4 separate regions of the Homo sapiens genome follow, and regions 2, 3 and 4 are each linked to region 1. Evidence: fine-mapped expression QTL. A gene starts in region 1. Each other region holds a variant in brackets. All regions are shown on one strand. Distances are between the middles of the regions. Region 1 holds the start of S100PBP (S100P binding protein). Region 2 overlaps S100PBP (S100P binding protein). Region 3 overlaps NHSL3 (NHS like 3). Region 4 overlaps CSMD2 (CUB and Sushi multiple domains 2).

The links. PIP is the estimated chance that this variant, and not a neighbour inherited with it, causes the effect.
Region 2: its variant is fine-mapped to the expression of S100PBP in whole blood (INTERVAL, PIP 0.98).
Region 3: its variant is fine-mapped to the expression of S100PBP in whole blood (TOPMed, PIP above 0.99).
Region 4: its variant is fine-mapped to the expression of S100PBP in sun-exposed skin (GTEx, PIP above 0.99).

What each region holds. Positions count from the first base shown.
Region 1 is chr1:32,816,617-32,819,274 of GRCh38, forward strand. S100PBP (S100P binding protein) reads left to right here and starts at 1,037. Exons shown (of 7, transcript NM_022753.4): 1 at 1,037-1,073. YARS1 (tyrosyl-tRNA synthetase 1) reads right to left here and starts at 742. Exons shown (of 13, transcript NM_003680.4): 1 at 572-742. The coding sequence starts at 628. RefSeq lists enhancers at 1-355, 356-855, 604-913, 1,281-1,450, 1,884-1,993 and 2 more.
Region 2 is chr1:32,846,692-32,849,374 of GRCh38, forward strand. The region is part of intron 5 of S100PBP (S100P binding protein); the gene reads left to right. Among named protein-coding and RNA genes, the nearest start is that of FNDC5, 23 kb to the right of the region's middle. The variant C/T (reference allele first, on the strand shown) is at 1,610.
Region 3 is chr1:32,760,650-32,763,332 of GRCh38, forward strand. All of the region lies in intron 1 of NHSL3 (NHS like 3), which reads left to right. Among named protein-coding and RNA genes, the nearest start is that of NHSL3, 20 kb to the left of the region's middle. RefSeq lists an enhancer at 1-520 and a silencer at 1,155-1,375. The variant A/G (reference allele first, on the strand shown) is at 1,361.
Region 4 is chr1:33,545,476-33,548,158 of GRCh38, forward strand. It overlaps CSMD2 (CUB and Sushi multiple domains 2), which reads right to left. Exons shown (of 71, transcript NM_001281956.2): 57 at 562-744. Among named protein-coding and RNA genes, the nearest start is that of ZSCAN20, 74 kb to the left of the region's middle. The variant G/A (reference allele first, on the strand shown) is at 1,577.

The DNA.
Region 1 (2,658 bases):
CTCTCCCTCCTTATTCTTCCATTCTTCCTCTGGTTCACTTCTACTCCTGTAGTTCTTGGTAACAAACGGAACATTTGTGGAGTGAGGGGGGGGGATCCATTTCCTTCAAGGCGCAGTTTGGAGGTCACTTCCTCAGGGAAGCCTTCCCTTCTCTCTTTCCCTTTAAAGCTCCCAGTATAGCATCTTCCAGTACTTACTTGAACCGTAATGGGTCATTTTTAACGTCTGATCCCCTTCAGACAAGCTCTGGCAGGCCCTTGACGTATCCCCAGCGACTAAGCACCACGTCTGGCACTTAATAGGGGGGTGGAATGGGAGTCCTGGATTCAAAGTTTGGCTCCAACACAAGACAACTGGACGCAAGAGGTGAGCCCACTGTGATTTCTGGGGAACCCAGGGAAGGGCTGCTTGATTGACTGACCGACCAGCAGTGAGATCTACAGGCTCTCTCAGAGCTGCGCCAGCGCCGAGTCCCCGGCCCCACATACTTAGAACCCCGTAATGGGGCTCAAAATCACTGAACCTCGGGCTCCTAATCCCCAACGGCGCATTTCCAACCCCCAGGCCTGACCTGCAGGTTCCGGGTGATAAGGTGCAGTTTCTCTTCAGGGCTGGGAGCGTCCCCCATGGCTCCGCTACCCCTGCTTCCCCCGCTCAGCCCGGCACCAGAGCCCCTTCCTGGGTCACCGTCGCCGCCGCGTGCCGGGAACTGTCACGCGAGTCCAGCCAGGTTGCATCAGCTGGGCTCGGCGCTCCGCTTACTCGGCCTGGACCCCTCCGGCAGCGGCCGGAAAAAGTGAGGAGCAGCAGAGAGTCGAGCAGGTCGATGAGACGGGAAAAGGTGGAGCCAGTGGGCACGGTGGGCGGTGCGGAGGGCGGGGCTGAGGCGCCTGAGCGGGGCACAACCCTCCTAGAGGCGGGACGGTTTCCTGCCAATCACTGCTGGTTTGCCCTCCCCCTGGTGTTGGCCCGGCTGACTCGGGGTAGGGGAGGTCGGGGAGGGGGCGATAAAATGGCGCAGGGGGCGGAGTGAGGCGCAGTCGTTCGCCCAGGCTTTGGCCCGGCTTCCGGAGGTGAAGAGCGGGAGGGACGAGGGGGTCGGCGTTACCCGGCTTGGAGGGGGATGGGGGCGCCTGTTGCTTCTCCAGGGGGTTGCGCACGCCGTCCGCCCCTTGGAGGGATTGGGAGGCCCACGCCCTGCTGCGAGAAGGGCGCGTTCTAGCTCCTGAGGTGATGGCGAGGGAATGTCCCTGCCCCTCCACCTCCAAGTCGGCGGGCGACAGATGCCCCTCACCCCGCTGAGGAAAAGGGAAGCTCCCTGGTCGTCTTGAGAGTCGGGGAGCGCCGTCTGCAGTCCCCTGCCCAGTGGGGGTGGGGGCCGCCTCTGTCCCGGCCGGCTCGGCGGGAGGCTGTTGCTGGCGGGAAGATAGCCGCGGGCTTTTCTGCCGCGTCTCGCGGGTGGGGGCAGGAAGAGGACGACCCATTCCCTGGGGAGATCTGAGGACGGTGGTCCCCGGGAGAGGAGCGCACAGCACAGGCCTGCTGAGGGGCGGGTTTGCCCCTACTGGGGGAGGGGCGGGGAGAAAACTCTCGCTTCTCCCGCTTTCCGCCGGGAGGCGGGAATTCGCGGTGTCCCCGGGGGAGGGAGACGCAAAGGCCCTTCCTGGAAGGCGACACCGTCCCGGGCCGTTGCATTTGTGAGAGAGAGCCAAGGCAGTATCCTCCAAAGGTTGGGCCTGGGCCACCCTTTCTCCGGCTCCTCAAGGGCTGGAGGCGGCGTCACCAGTTACTTCCAGGGCAAGAGGGAAAGCAGTTATTACCTCAGTGGGCCCTGGAAAGGTCCTAGAAGTGGTTGAATTGCCCACGGCCTGCCCTAACCTGATCTCCGGTGTTTTGTGTATTTATTAGGGACTCCAAGCTCTACCAGACCTGCCTGAAGTGTTTTAAAGCACATTTTCTTTTTGAAAAGAAACCTGTTGCTGCAGCTTAGCGCATCTGTTCTCTGTGTCCATGTGGGAGGAGAATCCTGGCACCCTCATCTAGTGAAATGTTACCTAAAGCAAAGATTTGCAGCCCTGGGTTGTTTTTTCCGTCCTGCAGTGTTTTTAGTTACTTCGAAGGAATTTGCAAAACTGTTACAGATAATTTCAGTTCTTTTTGATTTTTTGTAAATGTTGTGCCTATTTTTTATGGAGTGATAAAGCCTGCTGAGTGCGTTTCGTGCTGTGTGCTTCACATGTATTGCATTTGGGAAAGGTTGGAAATCAAAGGCCAGGGGGAAGTCTTGTCCACTGGAAATAATCTCTGCTCTTGGCTGTACCTGTCAGACCCTGCTTGGTAATGGTCTTGACTTTAGAGCTTGAAAGAGGATGTGGGCTTGCATCTGGTGTTGCAGTTTTAGTGGCCTCAATAAAGTAAGGCTTTGTGCTCGAAGGCAGTAGGTTTTCTGAGGTGAGATAAAAATAGAAAGGGAACCAGTTTCTGAGGTTGCAACCAGGAGGTTCGAGAACAGAGAGGGGGTGGTAAACTGAAGTGTGAAGAAGGGGGTGGACAGGTGAGAGAGATGTGGAAGGACAGAATGGGGTCACAGAAAGGATGGGGTGTAGAGGAACTAAGAAATAGAATTAGAAGATCGGAAAAATATTCTTCCCTTAAAAA
Region 2 (2,683 bases), 30 kb after region 1:
ACCTCCTGGCCTCAAGCAAGCCTCCCACCTCATCCTTCAAAGTGTTGGGATTACAGGCATGTTATTTTTACTTTAAACAGTAAATTATCTTTCTTTTTTTTTTTTTTGAGACGGAGTTTCACTCTTGTCGCCCAGGCTGTAGTGCAGTGGTGCGATCTCAGCTCACCGCAACCTCCGCCTCCAGGTTCAAGCGATTCTCCTGCCTCAGCCTCCCTAGTAGCTAGGATTACAGGCATGTGCTACCACACCTGGCTAATTTTGTATTTTTAGTAGAGACGGGGTTTCTCCATGTTGGTCAGGCTGGTCTCGAACTCCCAACCTCAGGTGATCCGCCCACCTTGGCCTCCCAAAGTGCTGGGATTACAGGCATGAGCCACCGTGCCTGGCCGTAACAGTAAATTATCTTTTAAAGACATCATCTAAATAGGAAAAATAGCCTTTTATATGCACTCACATACTTACATTTCCAGTGCTTTTGATTATTTTGTATAGATCCAAGTTTCGATGTGATATTATTTTCCTTTTTCCTAATGAACAACTTGTAATGTTTGTTGTAGTGCACATCTACTGATGAAGTCTCTCTGCTTTTATTTAGAACCTGTTTATTTTGCCTTCATTTAAAAAACTTTTTATTTTGAAAAATTATAGACTTATAAGAAGTTTCAAGACTCACCTCAGTTGTTTCTCTTTCCTCGGGGATCACAATTTTCAGTAGTCTGAAAGCACTTGTTTCATAATTTTGCCTAGTTTCTAGTAGCTTACAGTGAGAGGTTAAGTCCCCCATTCATCTTAGCTACAAGTGGAAATATCTGCTTTGATTTTTATTGAAGATCATAAACAGCAATGGTTATATAAATTCTGATTCTGAATTTCCCAGTACTGTTGAGGACATTCATATATCATTCAGTATCCCCTGTATCACTTCATAAGTGAATTACATAATAACTCCTGTTTCTTCTACTTTTTCCCTTGCCTGCAAGGAAAATCAGTCAAGATTTCTACTAGATCATCGCAGTTTTGTTGACCTAGAGGTGACACATTTGCATTCTTGCCTTCTACTTATTTTTTCTTTTCATTTATATTTTATTAATCTATTTATAAAAGCAGTAGCCCATGTCCCCTGTAGCACATTTTTTCTTTCCTTCTCTCTTCATTCCCTCCCTGGTATTAAGTACTTTACATTGCATGGAATAGAGATATTATGATAGCCTTTAAGTAACTGAGTTTAAGGATTTACAGGAAAAGATGATTAGATGAGACTTTTCACCAGGTCTCGTAGTGAAAAGAATTAACCGTAGAGCCGAACTACACGCTCCGTCAGAAATGTGTGCCTCTAACTAGGTGCTGCAGCTCACACCTGTAATCCCAGCACTTTGGGAGGCCAAGGTGGGTGGATCATGAAGTCAGGAGTTCGAGACCAGCCTCGCCAAGATGGTGAAACCCCATCTCTACTAAAAATACAAAAATTAGCCGAGTATGGTGGCGGGCACCTGTAATCCCAGCTACTCGGGAGGCTGAGGCAGGAGAATTGCTTGAAACCGGAAGGCAGAGTTTGCAGTGAGCCAATATCGAGTCACTGCACTCCAGCCTGGGCAAAAGAGCGAAACTC[C/T]GTCTCAAAAAAAAATAAAGAAAAAAGAAATGAGTGCCTCTGTTCCCTATTGGGATTTTCCCTAATCTAATCTGCTTCTGTGACCAGTACTTTTGCTGCTATTTAGCTATCTCAAGTAACTGTTTTTCCTAGAGCCCTGCATGTGTACTGTTCTCTCTTGTTCTCATTACTAAAGCTCACATTGACATTTCAAAGAAGAGTATCTGATTGGTTTACTTAATGACCTGCTGGTACCAGGCAGCCTTCTAGGTCATTATGTCATTAGCCAGCTGAGAGAGTCTCTGTTCTTTGGTCATGTGCCACACTTGATTGAGTTAGGGTCATGTGGGTGGTAAAAAGTATTATGTCCTATAAAACCTGTCAGAATTGGCATAGCAGGTACTCAGCATTATCCGTCCTCCTCCATTATGATATAAAAATTGATTCACTTTAAACTTACTAAGAACAGTTATTAAACTGGATGTTTCCCCAAAACCAGTCACCTTCATATTTATAGATTAAGATTTAGATGAATTGTTGACGTCATTCCTGAAATATTGGGGGTTTTTCCCTCCTTTATTTCATTCTTAGTCACAAAACAAAGGACAGTCTTTACCACCTTTTTGCCACAACTTAAAATAAACCCATGGTACTGATTGTTGGTCCAAGAAAGCCCATCTGTTAGAGACTATGAAGAGAAGAGAAAATTCAAATGTTCCCATTCTTGTTAGCATCTCTAAATTTGGAGGAAGATGAGGTTCAAACTATAAGCTAAAATGAGGTTTTTGGATTATTAGCCCCACCTGGGTTTGAATCCTGGCTTTCCTGATTTACTAGATGATAGATGAGTATCTTTTCTTTCTTTTTTTTTCTTTTTTTTTTGGAGACAGTGTCTTGCTCTGTCACTCAGGTTGGAGTGCAGTGGTATGATCATGGCTCACTGCAGCCTCCACCTCATGGGCTCAGGTGATCCTCCCACCTCAGCCCCCTGGAGTCGATGGGACTACAGGTGTGTACTACCACACCCGGGTACTTTTTGTAGAGACGGGGTTTCACCATGTTGCCCAGGCTGGTCTTGAACTCCTGGGCTCAAGC
Region 3 (2,683 bases), 56 kb before region 1:
GCGTGGTCTTGGCTCACTGCAACCTTCGCCTCCTGGGTTCAAGCGATTCTCCTGCCTCAGCCTCCTGAGTAGCCGGGATTACAGGAGCTCGACACCATGCCCAGCTAATTTTTGTATTTTTAGTAGAGACGGGCTTTCACGGCGTTGGCCAGGCTGGTCTTGAACTCCTGACCTCGCGATCCACCCGCCTTGGCCTCCCAAAGTGCTGGGATTACCGGTGTGAGCCACCGCACCCGGCCATGTGGGTGTGGTTTTGAGAGTGCCCACCTGCGGAGGTGGCCCCAGTGGGACGCTGCCTGCTGCCTGAGTCTCTGCCCTGGTAAACTGTCTCTGAGTTGAGGAGCCCGCAGGTGTGCTTCCCGGTGTGCCCTCCGTGCTGGGGGCGTGGCCACCAGGAGCAAGGTGTCTTCTCAGATCCAGGAAGCCTCCTCCCCCAGGCATGTTGGGGATGGGGGTGTGGTATGGGATGCTTCCCTCATGGCCTCAGCCCTAGGCTGCACCTCTGGACTGCCAGGGGCAGAAATCCCTGGAACAAGGACTCTAAGCGTGGCTGTGGGCAAGGTCTTTCCACTCTCTGGACCTCAGTTTCTTTGTGAAGTACCCCTCCCAGTCACCTGAGACTCAGGTTGCTGAGCCCCTCCCCAAGCGAGCCACAGGTGTATAGATCTGGGGTGACTCGGAGAGGCTGCGAGCTCTGACTTGGGTGGGGAGGGGGAGGGGTGTCGCTGGGGCAACCAGATGTTATCAAGTGTAAGCCCTTGGATCTCTGGGAATTTGCAGCTGTGGCCCTGACTGCCAGCTGTGGGCCTGGGACCTTGATGAGCTGATGTTCCTCCACCCCCATCTTGGCAGGAGCTCAGCCCTTAGTTTCCCTGGTTAGAGGGTAGCTGAAGATGACTGTCCTGTGTGGTGAAAGGCTCCAGTTTTAGAGCCAGCCAGAGTTCAGGAAGTCACTTAGCTCTCTGAGCCTCGCAGGCCCATGATCAATTACTAGGAAAGTACCTTCCAGTACCTGCCTCGAAGAACTTTTGTAAGAGCCATGAGGACAGAGACTACGTTTTGCCTTTCACCACGACCTGGCATGGTGCCTGGCATGAATTAATCACCCTGCAAATGTCGGTCTACTGGTCTTTTCTGTTTGTGTGAGACTGATAAGAAGAGTGGGTGGGTGGGTGGATCTGGCCTAAGAGGGGAAGAGTGGGGAAGGTAGGTGGTCGAGAAACCTCCAATTTGTAGGGATGATGGGGTCCCATGACCCTTTTTCAGAGGGGAGATCAGGTTTGTAGCTGGCACAGTGCACAGAACGTGGCTTTTGGATTCAAGTTGTTCTGAGTGAGAATACTGCTTTGCCATTTACACC[A/G]TGGAGGCCAGAGAGGGCAGCTTTATAATGCTTGCTCCCTCTGGTTTCCATTTCCTCATCTATAAAATGGGAATAAAAGTGCCTACTTCTTAGGATTATTGTTTAGATCTCATTGATTTGTTGATGTGACTATTCAGCTCCACAAATGTTTGTTCTCTGGAGAGCAAGATCTCAGCTTGTACTTGAGTAGTCTCCAAGAGGCCAGTGTTAGGGTGGCAGCAACTGGGGAAGGAACTGCAGGGGGGTCGTGTTGCTTGGGAGCCTCTGTGAATTTTTAGTTCCCTAGGGACTCAGAGAGAAAGATGCTATGACAGAGAGGTGTCCTTAGGCACGGCTGGTGGGATACTGCACAGATACATATATATAGTTCACAGACTCTCTTTCACAGTCTCTGCTATGTTTTTTAGAGTTATCAGGGGAATCTTTTTTTTTTTTAAGCTTTATTTTTATATATTTACTTTTTTTTTTTTAGAGACAGGGACTTACTGTGTTGCCCAGGCTGTAGTGCAGTGGTACAATTATAGCTCACTGTAACCTCGAACTCCTGGGCTCAAGCCCAGCCTCCCAGGAAATCTTTTATTTATTTTTTTTTTTGAGACGGAATTTTTTTGCTCTCTTGCCCAGGCTGGAATGCAATGGCTGCGATCTCGGCTCACTGCAATCTCTGCCTCCCGGATTCAAGCGATTTTCCTGCCTCAGCCTCCCAAGTAGCTGGGATTACAGGCGCCCGCCACCGCGCCTTGCTAATTTTTGTATTTTTAGTAGAGACGGGCTTTCACCATATTGACCAGGCTGGTCTCAAACTCCTGACCTCGTGATCCACCCACCTTGGCCTCCCAAAGTGCTGGGATTACAGGCATGGGCCACCACGCCCGGCCCGGTCTTGAACTCTTGACCTCAGGTGATCTGCCCACCTCAGCCTCCCAAAGTGCTAGGATTACAGGTGTGAGCCACAGTGCTAGCCTGGAATTTTTTTTTTTTTTTTTTTTGAGACGGAGTCTCTCTCTGTCACCCAGGCTGGAGTGCAATGGTGCAATCTCAGCTCACTGCAACTTCTGCCTCCTGGGTTTGAGCAATTCTCTCACCTCTGCCTCCTGAGTAGCTGGGACTACAGGTACACACCACCACCATGCCCGGCTCATTTTTGTGTTTTTAGTAGAGACAAGGTTTCACCATGTTGGTCAGGCTGGTCTTGAACTCCTGACCTCAAGTGATCCACCTGCCTCAGCCTCCCAAAGTGCTGGGGTTACAGGCGTGAGCCACCGTGCACGGCCAGAATATTTTTTAACAGTGTCACTACCCAGCTGAAACCCTCAAGGCTTA
Region 4 (2,683 bases), 730 kb after region 1:
TGTGTGTCTCCGTCTGTTCAGGCTTGGACATGGTGCCTTCTTGCTGTGTCTTCACATGGCACAAGGGAAAGGGAGCATTCTAAGGTATTTTCTTTTCTCTATAAGAGCATTAATCCCATTCCATGACCTAACAACTTCCCAAGACCCCACTTCCTAATACTATCACTGGGTGACCAGGTTTCAACATATGATTTTTGGGAGGTCACAAATATCCAGACCATGGCAGTGTCCGTCTTGGTCACCATTGTGTCCCCAGCACATTCCACAGCACTTGGCACATAGATGCTGAATGAAACTATATGGGAAATGAATGAAATAGTGGGTCAAATTCAGTCTTTTTTGATTTCTTCCCTTTTGAGGTGAGAGTGGGAATATGTTTGTCTTTTGATTACTAATGAAAATGCACATGAATTATCTGTTGCAGTCCTATCAGCCAGGCTGAGGGTTCAAATGGGGCCACGGTTTTTTTCTGTGAGCGCAGGTGCCTGGGAATAAGAGCAGGAGCAGGGGCGAGCTCTGGGGCTGGGCAAAGGGGAGAAGCAGAATGGTCACATACATTACCTCCACACTCAGGCTGCGAGCCGCTCCACGAGCCATTGGCTTGACAGGTGCGCTCTGACGATCCCCGGAGCACGTGGCCAGCTTCACAGCTGAAGCGCATCACAGTGCCTGGATCAAAGCTGTCCCCCAAACGGATGCCATGAGCCGGGATCCCAGGGTCACCGCAAACTCCCACGCTGGTTCCTATGGACCAGAACCACACAAATCCCATTATTTTTCAGGGAAGAAAAGGGAGTGGAGAAGCAGGGGAGAAAGATACTGGGATGGGACTAAGGGGATGCAGTGGGTCCCACGAATGAGGCCTAGCACAAGTTACCTGCACATGCTCCTGCCTCCATATGCAATGGTGGAAGAACACAAAGATCTGAGGCCATGGGTAAGTCCCTGGGAACCACACAGGGAGGGGAAGCAAGAAGGCAGAGGAAAGGCTCTGTGGCCCGTGCCAGTCTGGAATTTCAGTGATCCAAACTGGCCACAGGTCCTCCTTCTCCCCTTCCCCTCTTCTCTACAAACACCTGCTGATTCTGTAGTCCCATCTCCTCTCCTGTGCCACTGTCTTAGCTTAGACATTCAACATTCTTTTGCCTGAACTCTTGCAAGAGCCTCCCGACTAATGTCCCCTCCTTGTAAACTCTCCCTCTAATCCATCTTCTACTTTGTCCTCTAATCTTAACAATCACTAACCATCTGACCTTTTTTTTTTTCAAAAAATTTTTTCCTGCAGAAACATCTTTACTGGCTCCCCGATGCCATAGGATAAAGTCCAAACTGCTTAGCATAGCTTCATTTCTTAACCGCCTAGCTTGAATCTTGATCTTGGGCATTTATTTATTTATTTATTACTTTTTAAAAAGTTTCATTTTATCTTTAATTGACAAATAATCATTGTACATATTTATGGGGTAGGAAGTGATGTTTTGATGCATGTATTGTATATTTCCAAGTAGCTGTAGGAGAGAATTTTAAATGTTCTCACCACAAAGAAATGATAAATATTCAAGGTGATCGATGCTGG[G/A]CCTTTCATTAAGGATTCCCTACTCACAAATTATGCCATACAAGTGAGCTCTAGAATAAACATCTCAGACCCTCTCATTTCATTTTTGCTTCACCCCCTTCCTCTTGCTACATTCCTACATTTCTCTGGCTTCTGGTATTGTGCAAACCCACTCAAGAGACCTCCAAGGACCCAAGGAGCGAAGAAGGGTAGAGAACAGGAGACAAAGCCACAAGATCTATGGTCCCCTGCAGGGCCAACACATTTCATGATACAGAAATGTGTAGGAGATGTCCTTAGATCAGACCAGGCCATGGTAAACATGAGGAAAGAGGAGAACAATTACCGAATAAATGACAACTGCATGAAAAGATAAAGTTACAACTATCATGGAATCTATCTCCTCATGTAACCATGTGTGGGCATCAAATGGTAACATCTGAGTGACCACATCTAGTTGGCTGGAGCCAATAAATGTTTAAGTCATGTGTACCCCACCACTTGCCATTTATGTCTTTTCCACTTCTCAACCTTGGGATTATTCCCTTTCCTAGTCTCGACTCAGACTGTGAGACACTACCTAACCACATGTTCTCCATTCTGTTTCCCACTGTGGAAGAGGGATTCATTTTCAACCTTCAATGTAAACATTAATAAAAGAGAGCTTATCGCATTTGGCTAGGTTTTCTTATCTTTTGAAGGTTGCCAGGATGTAATTCACACAACAGGCAGAACTGGGTCTCCCTGGAAACAATCTTGATGGTGAGCAGCTCTAACCCACACACTGGCTAGCTAACCTCAGCTGGAGCTAGCACTATTGTAAAATAGGCACAAGATGGTTAACGTGGTTTGGCTCTGTGTCCCCATTCAAATCTCATGTTGAATTGTAATCCCCAGGTTGGGGAAGAGACCTGGTGAGAGGTGATTGGATCATGGGGTGGATTTCCCCCTTGCTGTTCTCGTGATAGTGAGTGAGTTCTCATGAGATCTGGTTGTTTGAAAGTGTGTTGCACTTTGCTCTCCCTCTCCTGACAGCCGTGTGAAGATGTGCCTGCTTCCCCTTCTGCCATGATTGTAAGTTTCCTGAGACCTTCCCAGAGGCAGAAGCCTGTACAGCCTGCAGAACTG